Regions from separate parts of the Homo sapiens genome. Here region 1 is linked to region 2. Evidence: fine-mapped expression QTL. Tissue or cell type: whole blood. Region 2 holds a variant in brackets; the other region holds the start of a gene. All regions are shown on one strand. Distances are from middle to middle.

What was found. PIP is the estimated chance that this variant, and not a neighbour inherited with it, causes the effect.
Region 1: it holds the start of ARLN, and the variant in region 2 is fine-mapped to the expression of ARLN in whole blood (INTERVAL, PIP above 0.99). The same link has a PIP of 0.9 or more in neutrophils.

Annotation. Positions count from the first base shown.
Region 1 is chr4:119,296,217-119,304,216 of GRCh38, forward strand. ARLN (allregulin) reads right to left here and starts at 4,429. Exons shown (of 2, transcript NM_001001701.4): 1 at 4,120-4,429; 2 at 203-2,563. The coding sequence starts at 4,319. The coding sequence ends at 2,563. RefSeq lists enhancers at 4,023-4,072, 4,173-4,402.
Region 2 is chr4:119,366,109-119,374,375 of GRCh38, forward strand. It overlaps the pseudogene KLHL2P1 and the pseudogene RNU4-33P. Among named protein-coding and RNA genes, the nearest start is that of LINC01061, 40 kb to the right of the region's middle. The variant C/T (reference allele first, on the strand shown) is at 4,506.

The DNA.
Region 1 (8,000 bases), 70 kb before region 2:
TTTATCCACTTCTTAAAAGCCTTCAAACTGAGGGCAATGTAAGCAGTCACTATACTTGCTATGGCACAGTTTAATGGTAGGTACAATTTCTTACCTATAGGAAAGATTCAGCCTTCATACTGCCACCATTTTGAAAATGCCAATTACAGTCATGTCATATTACTAAGTCAGGGTTTGCCATAGAAAGAGAATCAACAGGATATATATAGAAATAAATTTATTATGAGGGATTGGCTCTTGTGATTATGGAGGCTGAGAAGTCCCACAATCTGCTTTCCGCAGACAGTAAGCCCAGGAAAGCCAATGGTGTAGTTCCAGTCCAAACCCAAAGGTCTGAGAACCAGGGGCCCTGGTCCATGTCTGAAAGCCAGAGAATCAGGAGAACCAATGTCCAAGGATAGAACATGGATGTCCCTGTTCAAGCAGAGAGAAGACAGAATTTGCCCTTCCTCTGCCTTTTTATTCCAGCTAGGCCCTCAAGGGGTTGGCCCACCCGCAGTGGAGTGGGTGGCTCTTTTTTATTCAGTCTACTGATTCAAATGCTAATCTCTTCTGGAAACACCCTCATGGACAAACCCAGAAATCTGGGCATCTCCTAGCATAATCAAGATGACATATAAAATTAACCTTCACACCAAGATCTCTCCATCTTCACCATACTAGAAATTTTCAGAATATTTGGTAATTGTGGTAGTAGGCTGATTTTAGGCTCAAAAAGGCAGTATGGATTATGATCGGAAGTCTGTGTGTGACCTAACAGTAAACTATGTGAGAACTGTTAATCACCTCACAATCACACCACCAGGTAATTTGTTAGAATAAAACCAAACTCAGCTATATAAGTAAACATTTATTAGATGAAACCATTAGCAAGCAGTGCAGAAACAGTTCACACAGTTGATTTGGTAAACTCAGTGAAATCCCAGTTCTGTGTTCCTACAGATGTTTCAACCATACCTTCCATAGATGGTTCTCTTTAGGTTGATGTGACAACACCTTAAAAGCATAATTGCTAACTTTATAGTCAGCAATTATATTCCAGACTTGACTAACCCTAAGAACGATTTTGAAAGGTAGGAAGATATACAGAGAGTTTACCAGATCTTATGCCCTGTTTAAAAGGCGGGGGAGTATCCCCAAAATATTTAAGACAATTCATATATGCTGAATGCAACTAATTTAAACAAAAGACCACTTCTACCATTCCTCATGTAAAGCCTTTAGGGCTAACAGGAATATTTTCTTTTTGAGACAGGGTCTCTGTTGCCCACGTTAGAGTGCAGTGGCCCCATCTTGGCTCACTGCAACCTCCACCTCCCGGATTCAAGCAATTCTCGTGCCTCAGCCTCCCAAATAGCTGGGACTACAGGTGCATGCCAACATGCCCAGCTAATTTTTTTGTATTTTTTTGTATTTTTTAATAGAGATAGGGTTTCACCAGGTTGGCCAGGCTGGTGTCACAACTCTTGACCTCAAGTGATCTACCACCCTTGGCCTCCCAAAGTGCTGGGATTATAGGCGTGAGCCACTGTGCCCGGCCAACATTAATATTTTTTATTAGCTACTACAGCTTAGAGTAGCTGCTATGGGAGTGTGGCCTTTTTGATTAAATACTAGCTGATCAACCCTAGAATATAAATTCTTGTTTTATAACATTTAGATTTAAATAACAATAAGAATGTAAGCTCCATGAAGGCAAGAATGCCTTTTTGTTTTGTTCACTGCTGTGTCTAAAATAATGCCTGGCTCAAATATTTGTTGAATGAGTAAATATGCTGACTTTGCTGAAGTATTTAAGCAAGTTACAGATATTATACAAGTAAATATTTTGGGCACAAGCACACTTAATGAAACAGTAAAAAAAAAATAGGTTTGAAACACATAATCCTTCGTTATAGGAGGCTCAAGAGTTTAAAAGGAAAAAAGGGGGAAGATACCCAGGTAAGAGGGCATGCATGCTAGCTTTCCAATACTTTGATATTACCTGCTTTTTCTAAGACTGTATCAACCTGTCGCCCACCCATAACCTATCTTTTCATAACAGAGTCCAACTAAACCTAAAAATTAAAACTGGAACCTAGCAGCTTCTACGCAATCTAAGAATACTTTGTTCCCTCTCTCAAAATCTTTCCCTGCTTTTGAATAATTGACTTTTGAATTCATAAAAACCTTCCCTTATTAATCATCCTATTACTTGCATCATAGTAAACCCTGATCAACTCTTAAAACATTAAAAGACATTACTATATTTCTTAATGAATACACAAGACCTTTAAGTACAAATGCTTTTATATTCAGCCCCTGTAAAGCCATCAGATGTTTGAAAGTTTTTAAACACGAACCAAAGGGTTTAATTTTAAGAACTTAGCTAGGAATGGGTGAAATCCTACCCAATTAATAGAGTTCTGCAAATTAGTAACAAAGTGTAAAATGAAAGGAAGGGTCCCTTGGAGATGTGAAATTCTTCTATTGAGAGTCCTGTCTTCTTTATTCAAGAAGTTTGTAGCCATTTTCAGAATTCACTCAAGAACCAACTTCTTAATTTAGATATCAGCGAACAAGTCTGTAAAAAGCAAGTATTTGTCAGCAATATGTGCTTTATCTTCCCAGTTTTTAACACTTTATGCCTATTTACATATTGATAAAAAGAAAAGCCTAGAACATTTCTTGTAAGGCCTCTATTTTCTATCCAGAGCTGAAAGTTCAGGTCATAAAAACACACACACACACAAAACCCACTGTATTTGAGATTATCAGTCTCTACCAAAACAGGGAGGGAGAGTAAAACTCTCCCTTTACAAATGGCTTGACAGAGAATTTTATAGAAATCCCTATCCCTTTTGCCATCCTCCCATTAATCCCTCTCGCTCCCCTGCCACCCCTTTTTTTGAGACAGGGTTTGCTTTGTCTCCCAGACTGGAGTATAGTGGCACGTTCACAGCTCACTGAAGCCTCGACCTCCCCAGCTCAAGCAATCCTCCTATTTCAGCTTCCCAAGTAGCTGGGACTACAGGCGTGAGCCACTGTGCCTGGCCCTCTCTGTCTTCTCTAACTTACTACACCATCCAAGAAATGAGACAGTGAGGCTTAAGACACCCAAATCTTGGTGAAAATATAGGATGGGGGTTGGGGGTGTAGAAGAAGTGACTGCCTATCAAGAAGTGAGAATTTCAGAAGTAACTCATAGGCATGGTGACTAAGGAGTTAACAGTGAGTGAACAATCAACTCCAAAGTCCAGGAGAGCTGTCTAGATGGGCTACACTGCTCTTCTCCCATAGGAGCCCTGTTTCATCTCACTGCTTCTCCTTAGCTTGTCTCTTAACACCATCTCCATTTGGTGTCTGCTTCCTCCTGCCCTATTCTCTTAAGTTCCCTTCCTTTACCCTCTGCCAGAATTGTCTTTTCAGAGCGAGTGGCGATGAAAATGGAGAGCATGGGTTTTACAAGTAAACTCTACAGAATTTTGTAACTTGGTGTTTTAGGATATGTGGATGTGTGTAAGAAAAGGGCAAAGTGTCTCAGGTTTCTGGGAGGTAACGGTGGATAAAGTTGGCGTTTACTGAAATGGTAACGCTGCAAGGCAAGTAAATTTGGGTAAGAAGCTGTTAAGAGTTCAGTTTTGGACATGTTTAGTTTGAGACAGCTGCGTGGTCTGCTCATGGTTAAACAGCTGTATAGTAAAAATAGCTTTCGTTGAGCACTTACTACTGCCAGGCAACATGCAAATCACTACGATCTCAATCTTCACTACACCCCTATGACCTGGGTTACTAATGGTCCCAAATGGCAGATGAAAAAATAAAGCTCCAAAAGGCGAAATAACTTCTCCGGTCGCTTCATGGTGCTGCAGGAACTCAAGCCTAGCTGGTTTCATTCCAAATCATGAGAAAATATGACGCCAAGTTTTCTCCACACTTCTTTGGAGACTCCCACGGACGTGCTAAAGAAGGACATTTTACTCCTAGTCCTTCTCCCCCACCCACCCGACTGCGCCACTCACCAGCTGTGTGATCTTGGACATATATAAACTCTCTGGAATTCAGTCCCCTCCCCGCCCAAAAGCGAGCAAATGATCTCTAAGCTCCTTACCACCCCAATTTTGCATTCGAGATACTCACCATGGCAAAAAATACACAAAGAGAAACACCACCACATCGAAAAGGATGAAAAGCCAGAGGTCCAACCAGTAGGAGTGTTTGGGAAGCCCATTTGCCCCAGACTGAGGCCTCACATCGAAGTTCTGCCTCCCTCCCTCGCTAAAGCCTCGCCGCTCCCGGAGACCATCTCGACCATCAACACCCGGTGCGTCCACCTCCATCTCGCTCCTGCAGCTTCGTAACAACCCTAGAAACCGAAAATGCTTAAGTTCCCGGACTTTGGTGTTCGCCGCACCGGAAACTGAGCGGAGTCCGGCCGCCTGCGCAGTGCGCCGCGCCCCGGGTTCCGGAATGCACTCTGAACCTACTCTTCCCAGCGCGCAGGCGCCTGGCTCGGCTTTCCGCTGCCTCCGTGACCGCTGGCATGAAGCGCGGCCTCCGCCTTGACACTAAGTCAATGGGCCCGCCTACTTCTGCCTCGCGGCGTCCCAGGCAGATAGCTGGTTATTCAGGTTTCGTTGGAAGAAATACGTTCTCGTCCCCCTGAAAGGCCCAGTCCAGTCAGGTGATGGACTCCTCCCTGAAACTGCACGAGGTCACCTCTCCTATCCCCGTATTCCGTTTGGATCCTTATGCCAACGTGTTAGGAAGGCCCCCTCTGGTGGGTTTTGTACTGTCTCTAGCATTTGACACTTAATATTTAAACACCACCAATGAGGTGGACGTCCTACTCACGGGACTGAGTTTCCAAACGGGCCAGAGAGCAGCACGTGAGCATTTTGCAGGTACTTCAAGGGAGTGGGTTTAAGAATAACCTGGCCGCGCCCCCCTGTAATCCCAGCACTTTGAGAGGCCGAGGCGGGCGGATCACCTGAGGTAAGGAGTTCGAGACCAGCCTGGCCAACATGCTGAAATCCCGTCTCTACTAAAAAAAAAAAAAAAAAAAAAAAAATCCAAAAATTAGCCGGGCGTGGTGGCAGGCGCCTGTAATCCCAGTTACTCGGGAGGCTGAGGCAGGAGAATCGCTTGAACCCGGGAGGCGGAGGTTGCAGTGAGCTGAGATCGTGCCACTATTGCACTCCAGCCTGGGCAACAGAGCGAGACTCCATCTGGGGGGAAATGGGGGTGGGAAGAATAACCCAAAGGTTATTTGACTTTGAGTGTGAGCCTCAGCAAGAACAGAATGCTAGCAGGAAGAAAATGACCTATACTGCCTGGATTTTACCTCGTGGGTCCAATTTCAAATATTCTCTTTCTTGTCACATTATGATTCCTGAATTGTTCAGAAAATAACGGGCACCCAGACATATAAGTGGTTCTCTTGGTGCATAGTAAATGGAGATAAGACTGTAGTTGTGTTTTTACAAAGTCATTAAATCGTCGTAAAACCTCTTTGAAGGGGCAGTACTCCATCTTATAGAATTAGGAAATGAGACACAAAAGGAGTGAATTGTCTAAGGTTACTAAAAAAATTATAAAGCCTAAAATTAACTCCAAATCCAGCACTCTTAAAGCTGTTCCATAGCTTCCTAACCTTGCTCCAATTTGCCTCCAAATCAATTGCCAGGTTTTAGAGACAAAGATAGTATACGACCTTTCAAGAAAAATGCTTTGTAGATTCTGGGATGAGAGGGCCATTACCTGAGAATTAATTAGATTGTGTGCTGTAATACAGATTGTCTGATGGTAGTAGACAAAAAGACCCTGGGCTTAAGTGGCATTGAATCTTTACAAAAATTAGGAAAGGCAAATAAACAATTGCCTCTACCAGAGATGGAAGCATTCTTCTCGCTGACAAGGTAGGATCAATTACTCCTAGTTATTGAAGTAGGATTGATAAAAAATTATTGAGATTATTAGTGTTGAAGAAGCATGACATAAACTGAACAGGTCTTGAAATGGTTTTAAACTTGTCTTTGGCCCAGAGTCACATGCTCATCATGAGGGGATGTTGACAGTATGATCTGTTCTAGAGTCAGGAACGTCTGCCAGACTTGGAAGAGCAACTAGTGCAAATAAGGAGGGGTTATTTAAACTAAATTCAGTTGAAAGATTCTATTTCCGACTTTACCCTTGTAAAAGTCCCACTGATTGTTGATTATTCCACATTACAGAAATGAGTTTAGAGTGTGTTATGGCTGATTTTGAACTACTGGCCTCAAGTGATCCTTCTGCCTCGACTTCCCAAAGTACTGGGATTACAGGCATGAGCCACCTTGCTCAGTTGGCATTTGCCATTATCAAAGCAATTTAAATTTTAAAAAGTACTGTACTGAAATCCAGGTTCACTGTCAGTCATGCAATACCTCGGCACTTGTCCAACCACCTTGAACTTTCTACTTCACATGTTCAACTGAAAAATATGCACCAGGGACTACAGATTGAATCATTGCACTGCAACCATGATCCAACACTTCCATAATTCTGTCAGCACAATTAATCTGATTGAGCTGGGGTGGAGAAGGTGGTGTATGAAAATGCTATAACCATCAGGCCAAAGACAGCTAAGTGTTTTTAAGAAGACGTTACAGATCTTCTGAACTTCAAGTGCAATAAGTTTTCAGGAGGGAGATGATGATGAATTTTGCTTTAACCTAAGGGATAATGCAAATTTTTCGTATGCAGCTCTCAAGCCAGTATATCCATGTGATAAAGCATCCTCATGATCATCCTAGGAATTAAATTAATTTTATAGAATAACCTCTCCAACAGTGGAGAATTTGGTTACTGTAATTTTCATCTGGAAATATATGTGTTTATCTTAAATTATTCTTTCTCATCTTAACTTTGTCTTTTCCTCCTTTTCAAGTTGAGTACCTGTCCTAGCAACAACCCTGTTGATTGGTACCACAGGTTATTTCTCCATCTTCTGGGTCATTTTATTTATTCATTTTGTTGTTATTGTTCTCTTCAATTCTTTTTTTTTTTTTTTTTTTGGAGACGGAGTCTTGCTCTGTCGCCCAGGCTGGAGTGCAATGGTGCGATCTTGGCTCACTGCAACCTCCACCTCATGGGGTCAAGCGATTCTCCCTGCCTCAGCCTCCTGAGTAGCTGGGATTTCAGGCGTCTGCCAGCACGCCTGGCTAATTTTTGTATTTTTAGTAGAGACAGAGTTTCGCCATGTTGGCCAGGCTGGTCTTGAACTCCTGACCTCAGGTGATCCGCCCGCCTCGGCCTGCCAAAGTGCTGGGATTGCAGGCATGAGCCACTGCACCCAGGCTGTTCTCTTTCATTCTTACTCCTTTGTATATCTTCAATAGTTTTCTTTGTTTAAGAGTTGTACTATCTGCTGGGCGCTGTTGTTCACACCTGTAATCCCAGCACTTCGGGAGGCCAAGGTGGGTGGATTGCTTGAGCCTAGGTGTTCGAGACAAGCCTGAGCAACATGGCGAAATCCCATCTCTACAAAAAATAGAAAAGTTAGCTAAGTGTGGTGGCACACACCTGTAGTCCTAGCTACTCAGGAGGCTGAATTGGGAGGATCACTTGAGGTCGAGGCTGCAGTGAACTGTTATTGTGCCACTGCACTTCAGCCTTGATGACAGAGCCAGACCATGTTCCCTCCATGCTCTAACAAAGAAAGAGTTGTACTATCATCATAACTAGGTTGCAGCTTCTCTTTTATCTTCATCTTGGCCTTAGCAGTTCCCACCTTTATACCCACTATTAATCTGGCTCTACTCTACTCAGCCAACCTGGTACCCAGGAAACATTCTTTGCTCCAGTCAGAGTGCTTTCTTCCATCTTCCTCATGGAAACTATTCTCTTGGCCTCTGGGCTTTGGTGCATGTTTTTCCTGTTAAACTGGAATGCTTTCTCACCTGTCCAAATCCTACTCATCCTTCAGGGCCCCACTTAAGTGCCAACTTCATAAAATTTCCTTCACTACAATTCACATTGAT
Region 2 (8,267 bases):
CCTTCCCTCTTTATATTCTGAATCAGGTCATATAAAAAATGTCCCTAATTTGCTATAGAGTTCTCTCCCTCTTGTGCATTTGAGTTGGCATGGAGACCACACTTGGGTGATTGTAGTACCATGCTAAATCTTTGATTTAGAATCACCTGTTCCATTGGTTTGACATGCAGTGATTAGAGCAAAAGTTATGTATCTCCCAGCAGTGTCTATGGAAGGCTTATTGCTTTTCCATTTCTGTTTTCTTTCTCTCATGGGATAGAAGTCCTTTGTGAGTAAAAGGGTTTGGCAGATGATGTGCTTGGAAAACACAGGTTAAAACTTAAAAAAAAAATTACATAAATTCCTGAATCAAACCTTCAGGATTAGTGGTTGTTTATGATATAACCATGGGTACTTATATCATTGTAATGAATTTATCTGACATTCTAGCACCCAGAAATCAGTTACCTTGATATTTTATCACTTTACCTGGTTAGTACTAATTTATTATTATCCAGAGGCATAAAAATTTAAATTATTTACCATTTGAGTTTTGATGTTAATTGTATTTTATTATATTTTAAGTCTGAATTTGGTAATCCTCATAGTTTTAATCAAAATATTAGACCAACTAGAACATCCAGTCTCCATTCTAGTTAAATTATTTTTATTCAATATAAGAATATAGAATTAAAAAAGTCTTATTTAAAATTTAATATGGAATGGCCATTGAGGTCAGCTAGTTTGAGAAAACCTAGAAACCTTAGTATAAGAGCGTCTTATAAAACTAGGTGGATACGACACCCAAAGTGGTTTTTAAAAAATTTATTGTTCGGAGCAAGGCTAGGTACTCTAGAAGCATTAGTAATTGAGTTACTTGTGGCTTTGTATTATTAAAATATATGGTCCTTGAAGATGTCTCCACGGCTGAATCATTTTGAGATTCACGTTTTAAGTAGTTTCATGTGGTACATAAAAGGCATTTATCTTGATGAACAAAAAAATGACTCCATCCTGTTTATGATTTAGCATCTTATAACAGCGTCTTTGTAATTTGAACTCGAACAAGACAAATAAAAACAAATCAAAGTCCTTATTAGAAATATATCCAGTTCAAAGTGGATTTTTTTTTCTTGTTTGTGATGTTGTTTAGGTATGGAGCCTGTGTGTGGGATAGCACATTTGTATCAGGCTAGTTGCCAGTGTTCAGGGTACGCCTCTCCAATCCAGTCCAGGTGGTCACAGTCTAGAGTTGTTAAATTATATGTGGTTCTGGCATGTTTGGTTTGACACCAGCCAAAGGTTTTATAAACCCTAGCATTATTGACATATAGTCTTAAAAATATTATTACCTCTTGGACCTTAATGTCTTAATCTCATTGTTAGGTTAGTAAAATTAATGTGCTTCTGATAATCTGGTTTAAGTGTATTATGCCTTTTCTTGGGCTATATAATTTATGAAAACTTTATTTCTAGCTTTGTACAGTGGCAGTATCATAGCCAATGAGGTTTATCTGAGGCATGATTATTGCTAATTGAAAACTTTATTTCTTGCGAAAATAGAATATAGCTATATCACTGACATGGATGCACAAGCTACTGTTTTAAAATAAGTTTATCAATGCTAGTGTAGCAATTTGGTCACGTAAATGCATTTTTGCGGGGTTGCCTCTTATTTTGGATTCTATCAGGTAGGATTATTATTTTCTATTTGAAAATTTATTTCATGGCTTATAAAGGCTGTCCGTTGACCTCTGGTTAATCTATTAGTATGGATTTAAAGTACAGCTGTCCCTCAGTATCCGTGGGAGTTTGGTTCCATGACTTCCCTTGGGTACCAAAATCTAAGCATGCTCTAGTCCCTGACTTAAAGTGGCATAGTATTAATATTTGCATATAACGCATGCACATCCTACTGTATACTTTTTTATTTTTTATTTTTTTGAGACGGAGTCTCACTCTGTTGCCCAGGCTGGAATGCAGTGGTGCGATCTCGGCTCACTGCAACCTCTGCCTCCTCCTGGGTTCAGGCGATTCTCTTGCCCCAGCCTCCTGAGTAGTTGGGATTACAGGCACCCACCACCATGCCTGACTACTTTTTGTATTTTTAGTAGAGACAGGTTTCACCATGTTGGCCAGGCTGGTCTCAAACTTCTGACCTCAGGTGATCCACCCGCCTCGGCCTCCCAAAGTGCTGGGATTACAGATGTGAGACACTATGCTTCGCCCCTCCTGTATACTTTAAATCATCTCTAGTTTGTGTACAATACCTAATACAATGTAAATGCTGTGTAAATAATCATTAATATGGTATGGTTTAGGGCATAATGACAGGAAAAAAAGTTTGTACATAATCAGTACAGATGCACTATTTTTCCTGAATATTTTTGATCTGAGGTTGGTTGAATCCCATGGAGGGTTGACTGTACTTGATTGTTTTTCCCCTAGTGGGATATAATTTACATACCATAGATCTTAACTGTACAGTTTGCTAAGTTATAACAAATGTACACATCTATTAATCCACACCCAAATCAAGGTATTGAGCATTTATAACCTCAGGTCTCTTCCCAATAAATCTCCCACTCCCTTTCCAGGCAACCATTGATGTGATTTCTATTATAATAGGTTAGTTTTCCCTGTTCTTGAACTTCATATAAATAGAATCATACAGAATGTATTTTTTTTAAGGCTGACTTCCTCCTCATAACATATTTGTGAGAGTCATCTATGCTGTTGTGTATTTCAGTAGTCGTCCCTGTTTATTGATGAGTATTGCATTGTAAGGGTTTATTACAGTTTAGCATGTTAATGGATATGTGTCTCCTCTGACTAGAGATGGGATGGGATCCACATCCAGTGCTGCCAGCTGTAGGAGTGAAGGATGCAAGGGCAGGAGCCAAGCTGTCATTAAAAAAACCAGTAGAACACTTTGTTTACTCTGTCCACTACGTGTTAAAAATACTTGGTGTGGAAGTGTTCAGTAGTTCGTTCTGTTTGTGTCAACATTGTTTTATTTTTTAAGTTTCCTGAGATCAGAGGAGCTTGTTGTCCATTAAGTTGTTCTAATATGATGATAGGTTAAAGCTGTGTGCCAAGTCCATTTAATTTTATAATAGGATTGTTTGTTATAGCAAATACTTTAGAAATGTTAGTTATTTTTAAAGCCATTATTAGTCTTTATTATTACTGATTATAACATTTCATCATGTGGATTTATCATATTTTACTTAATTGTTGCCATATTGTTAGATCTTTAGTTGGTTCTGGTTTTTTTTCTACTAAGTAATGCTAAAGTAAAAGTCATTTATGTATCTTATTCCATTTTTTGGACTTTTTTCTCAAGGTAGATTTTCAGAAACATAATTTTAGGGTCAAATGTTTTAAACGTTTATATTTTTTGGTATCTATTGATCAATGTTCCTTATTTGTTTTCTAAGGGAGTTGATTAGTTTACAGTGACAGCAAAAATATGCTAAGGGCCAAGGCTTACTGTACTTTAGTTTGAATATATATTGTCTGGAAACATTTTGTTGTTTGAATTGGGAGGTGCTAGAAAGAAAAGTAAAAACATTTTGTATTATACTTATAAAATGCACTCTCATGGTTCTATATTTGATAACTAATGAAGCATCAAATACATTTCTCATTTTTGTATGCTATGTTTCTTTTTTTGCAAATTTTCCCTGATTACATCTTTTATGTTGAGAATATTTGATCAAAAAAGGAAGCTACCTATATTGTGAATGATCTGGGATAAAACATCATCTTATGCGGGAGAGACTAAATCTTGGTGTTCAATTCTCATGAGGTAGAATGTTCAATCCAAGAAAAAAAGCCCTGAGTCAGAGCTGATGTGCTACATGGTCATTGCCATGCATTGTGTTAAATCGTTGACTGACATTTAATTTTTCAATAACCTGAAAGGTAGGTGGTGTCTTCATTATCCATTTGACCCACTCTCAAATAAGTCGGACTTTTAAGAGAAACCTTGGGTTAAAAGTAGTAGAAGTAGCAACTGGAAAAAGGATAGTGTAGGAGAGATGGCTTTCAGTCTGCCTGAGGCTGCTTTGCCCCCAAATTTCTTCTCTCCATACTACCTTTGCTTTTCTACTTCATTAATTATAACATTGGAAATGCCACCAATTGCAGTTGTATTCTGCTTAAGAGTCAACCTCTCTTAAAATGTTAAAAACCCCTAGAAGGGGATTTATTCTGGAAGATCTTGTGTTATTAGCTATTAATATGACCTAATCAGACAGTTTTTTTTTTGTGGTGGGGGGAGGTTGTTGTTTTTGTTTTTTTAAACTCTGTGGGACATACCTATTCCTAGGGGTGGAGTGTTGGGAGGAGGCAGGCGAGGTTGCATGTGGGTTACAGGAAAGAAGGTGGAAGAAAGTTTCCTTCCTCTTTCTGGGATGTAGGGGGCTGGCCCGGTGCAGAGTTTTGACATAGGAAATGCTTGTCCTTGGCATCCTGCCATCTCCTTATTCATACTTCTACATCTCAAAACCCTACTCCTTGAC[C/T]GCAAAACCCAGCCCTCTGCTATGTGCATCCAACCATGACTCTCCACCCAGATCTGCCTTTCTTGTCACTAAGCGTTTCATCTTCTAAACACATCACCCTTGCCTGCCTTCTCCCCACACTCCTCCCCAAGCTCCACCTTGCAGGATAGCTATGGCTAGCCGAGTCAAAAACAACAGCAACAACAAAAGCTGTCTTTTCATGCTTGCATGTTTTCTTAGATATTTAGAAGTTATATATATATGGAGCAATCGGACCCTTTGGTAGTCTCTTCCTAATAAACAAACTGCTAATGGCTCAGGATTTAAAAGACATACTACATAAATTATTTCCCCCTATGGAATAAATGCCCAAGCTGAAAATAAACTATAGATCCTAATAGCCAAGCAGAAGGAGTATACTTGTCTAAGCAAAACATCTTCTATGTAATTTGGCTTGTCAAACAATGTGAAGTAGGATGAAAGCAACTTACTTTAAAATATGCAGCTGATGTGAGAGTGTCACACAGATGTTAATTGTTTGGCTTGGGTGTCTTCCATTTCTCATGCTCTACAGTGTCTTCACTGATCAGTGGTGGCTTCTCCCCTCCATTTCTTTGTTCATTGCAGAAAGCATCTCCAAAGTAAAAAATGTGCAGCCTTTTATTTGTCTCCATTGGTTGGAAATCAACATATACAAATAAAAAAGCTTTTTTTTTTCCCTGTTTTTCAAAATGACAACATTTTAAGTTAGATTTATTTAATCAGGGGCTATGTCCTTCTACTTCATGTTTCTCCAAACACTTAAAACTGTTGCTGTTCACCGAACAGGAAGAGTAACGTGTAGAGCCTGGTTACTGTTCTACAAAACACTGGCTTGATGATCAAAGGCCTTTCAGACTCCAAAGGCCTTTCAACACGCCAAAGTGAGGCAATCTCTAGTGAGTGGTGGGTAATATTTCCCAGAGAAGCCACAGTCCATATATAGCTCCCCTTAACCCTTGTTATATTTGTTAGCATTGTAGAGATCCAGAAAGACATTCCTTTACTTGCTCCCTGACTTTCTTTTAAATAATATTTGACCATTTAAATGGTACATAGAAAATGCACCACTTAACAAATACATAAAATTTAACAAATATGTAAAAATAAATAGGAAATGTTCATATCACACCTAACCAGAGATAAAACGTATTAACAATTGTGGTATAGCCCTCTAATACTGTCTGTTGTTATGCACACATGTGTTTACCCAAAAAAGGGGTCATACTGTAGATTCTTTTAGAAACTAGCTTTTTATACTAAATGTATTAGAAACATTTTTCCAAGTCATTAAATATTTGTCTACTAGATCTCTTTTAAGAGCTGCAAAATATTCAATTTCATTGATATTATAGAATTGACTTCATTTTTCTCTTGTTATTGGACATTTAAGTTCTTCTCAATTTTTTATAATTTAAACAACACTATAATTAATAGTTCTATAGCTAAGTATATTCACATTCACAGTTTGTTCCATTGTGTAATATAACAGCTTGGGGTCCTTCTGCAAGCAAGGCTTACATGCAGTTCATTTATTTGGGAAGTGATCCCAAGGAGCCACAGTGAGTGAATGGAGGACTTGAGCTGGAAAGGAGGGAAAACCGGTTCATAGGTGCAGTACAGATCTGGCCATAGCTACATGTGACAGGACCTTTGAAAGCCTTATAACATATGTCTCAGAACTGTCTTCTAGGAGAATACCAGGGGGAAGTATTTCTCTTCCTTTGATCCGTTCTCCACTAGTCAAGGGTGGTCCCACAGCATTATTTCCCACATGCTTCCAGACTATGTGGGTATGAGCCCAGTGCATCACTGAAGGCCTAGGATAGGAAGCCAGAGAGAGGTATGGCCGGGGGCTGGGGTGAGGCCCTGTTACGATACATCTTCAGAAAGGTGGTCAAAGCCTGCTTGGGCCTGGTTGCCGCAGTGGTGGGTTGGGCAAGAAGTAAGGCTGAGAGGATTTGTAGTAGGATACAAGAAGTGTCTGGTACATATACATTCCTAGAAACAGAGTTTGTAATTTTGTCTCAAAGGACATGCACAATTGTATCTCAAAATAGAAATACACATGGGAGTCATAAAATTATGTTCAGGTTGATTCATTTATGAGGTACACATTCTGAGACCTGAGGATGTGGCAGGGGGTAACAGACGTGATCCTACTGCCACAGAGCTTACATTCCTTTGCAGGAAGACAGTAAACATGGGAACAAATACATAACATCAGTGCTGACAGCAGTAGGTGCTGTGAAGCAAATGAAATGAAGCAGTGCTGTTAGTAGTGACTTGAAAGGGACTGAGCCCATGGTGAGAACACCAGGGTTCTCATGATTTTAGATGGCACACAGATAAACTGAGAGTGAAGAGACTCAGGGTTGGGTTGATGGAATAGAACTAAAGGAGAAGGATGTAGGAAGGAGGGGCGAGGGCCTCTTTACATTCACTGTCCGCTTTGCATTTTTCCTAGAGGCAGATGTACCCAAGAGAGATATTTTGGCTTTTGGAGTGTGGCCTTCCCTCAGTGTATATACTATATGGAATTTAATCACTCTTAGATTCTTAGAAAATATTATTAACATTCAAAATATATATCAAATTATAATTGCTCCATCTTTGATGTTTTGGAATATACTTCAGGATCATAGAGTGCCTTGGGGTTATTTTTAATCAATCTCAGTGTTAACACTAGTGCAACTCTGCACTAGATGGAAATTTCCATTAGATGGTGGCTGGGGGTTTATTTTATCAATGTAATTCTACTTCATATGAGAAGCAGCACTGTTCAACTGCTCCTTTGCTTTAGAGAGCTCAGAAAATAAGTTTCAAAGACATAAATTTATTCATTGGACCTTTTAGTTACAATGCCCAAGATATTTTTGTGACCTAAATAGCAAATTAAGAAATCACCTCTTTACATTGCTAGGTGTTTCTCACATTTGTTACCGATAGTACAATTTATCCACTTCAGTAGAAAGTAAGCCATGGGATTATGATAGCTCCAGATTAAAGCACATTCTTCTTTTTCAGTGATATGTAAAACCACAGGATCAGAATTATATTAGATATTGAAATATTAGAATATTAAATCTGATCTCCTAAATCAGGGTTTTCCACATTCTGATCACTTGTAATCATTTGTGGGCCAGCTTCAGGATTTTGCTATATTCTACAAGTGCTGATGCTATTAAATTTTTAATGTTTTTCTCTACAGTGAGTCAATTTTTGCTTAAATAAGTTTACTTGGGAAGGAATGTTTATATTATTGTATTATTGAAATAAATGGAAAATAACTTTAAAAAATGTATTTCTAACTATGAACCTATATTCTCTTTTTTTTTTCTTTGAGATGGAGTCTCACTGTGTCACCCAGGCTGGAGTACAGTGGTCCGATCTCGGCTCACTGCAGCCTCCGCCTCCTGGGTTCAAGCGATTCTCCTTCCTCAGCCTCTCAAGTAGCTGGGATTACAGGTGCGCACCACCATGCCCAGCTAATTTTTGTATTTTTAGTAGAAACGAGGTTTTGCTATGTTGGCCAGGCTGGTCTTGAACTCCTACTCCTGACCTCAAATGATCTGCCCACCTTAGCCTCCCAAAGTGCTGGGATTACAGGTGTGAGCCACCAAGCCTGCCCTGAACCTATATTCTTAACTATTAATGCAAGAAGTTTATCTGTATGTCATCTAAAATCATTATGCACATTTTGGTTAGTACCGCTCTCATAGCAGGCTTGGCCTGTCCCATACC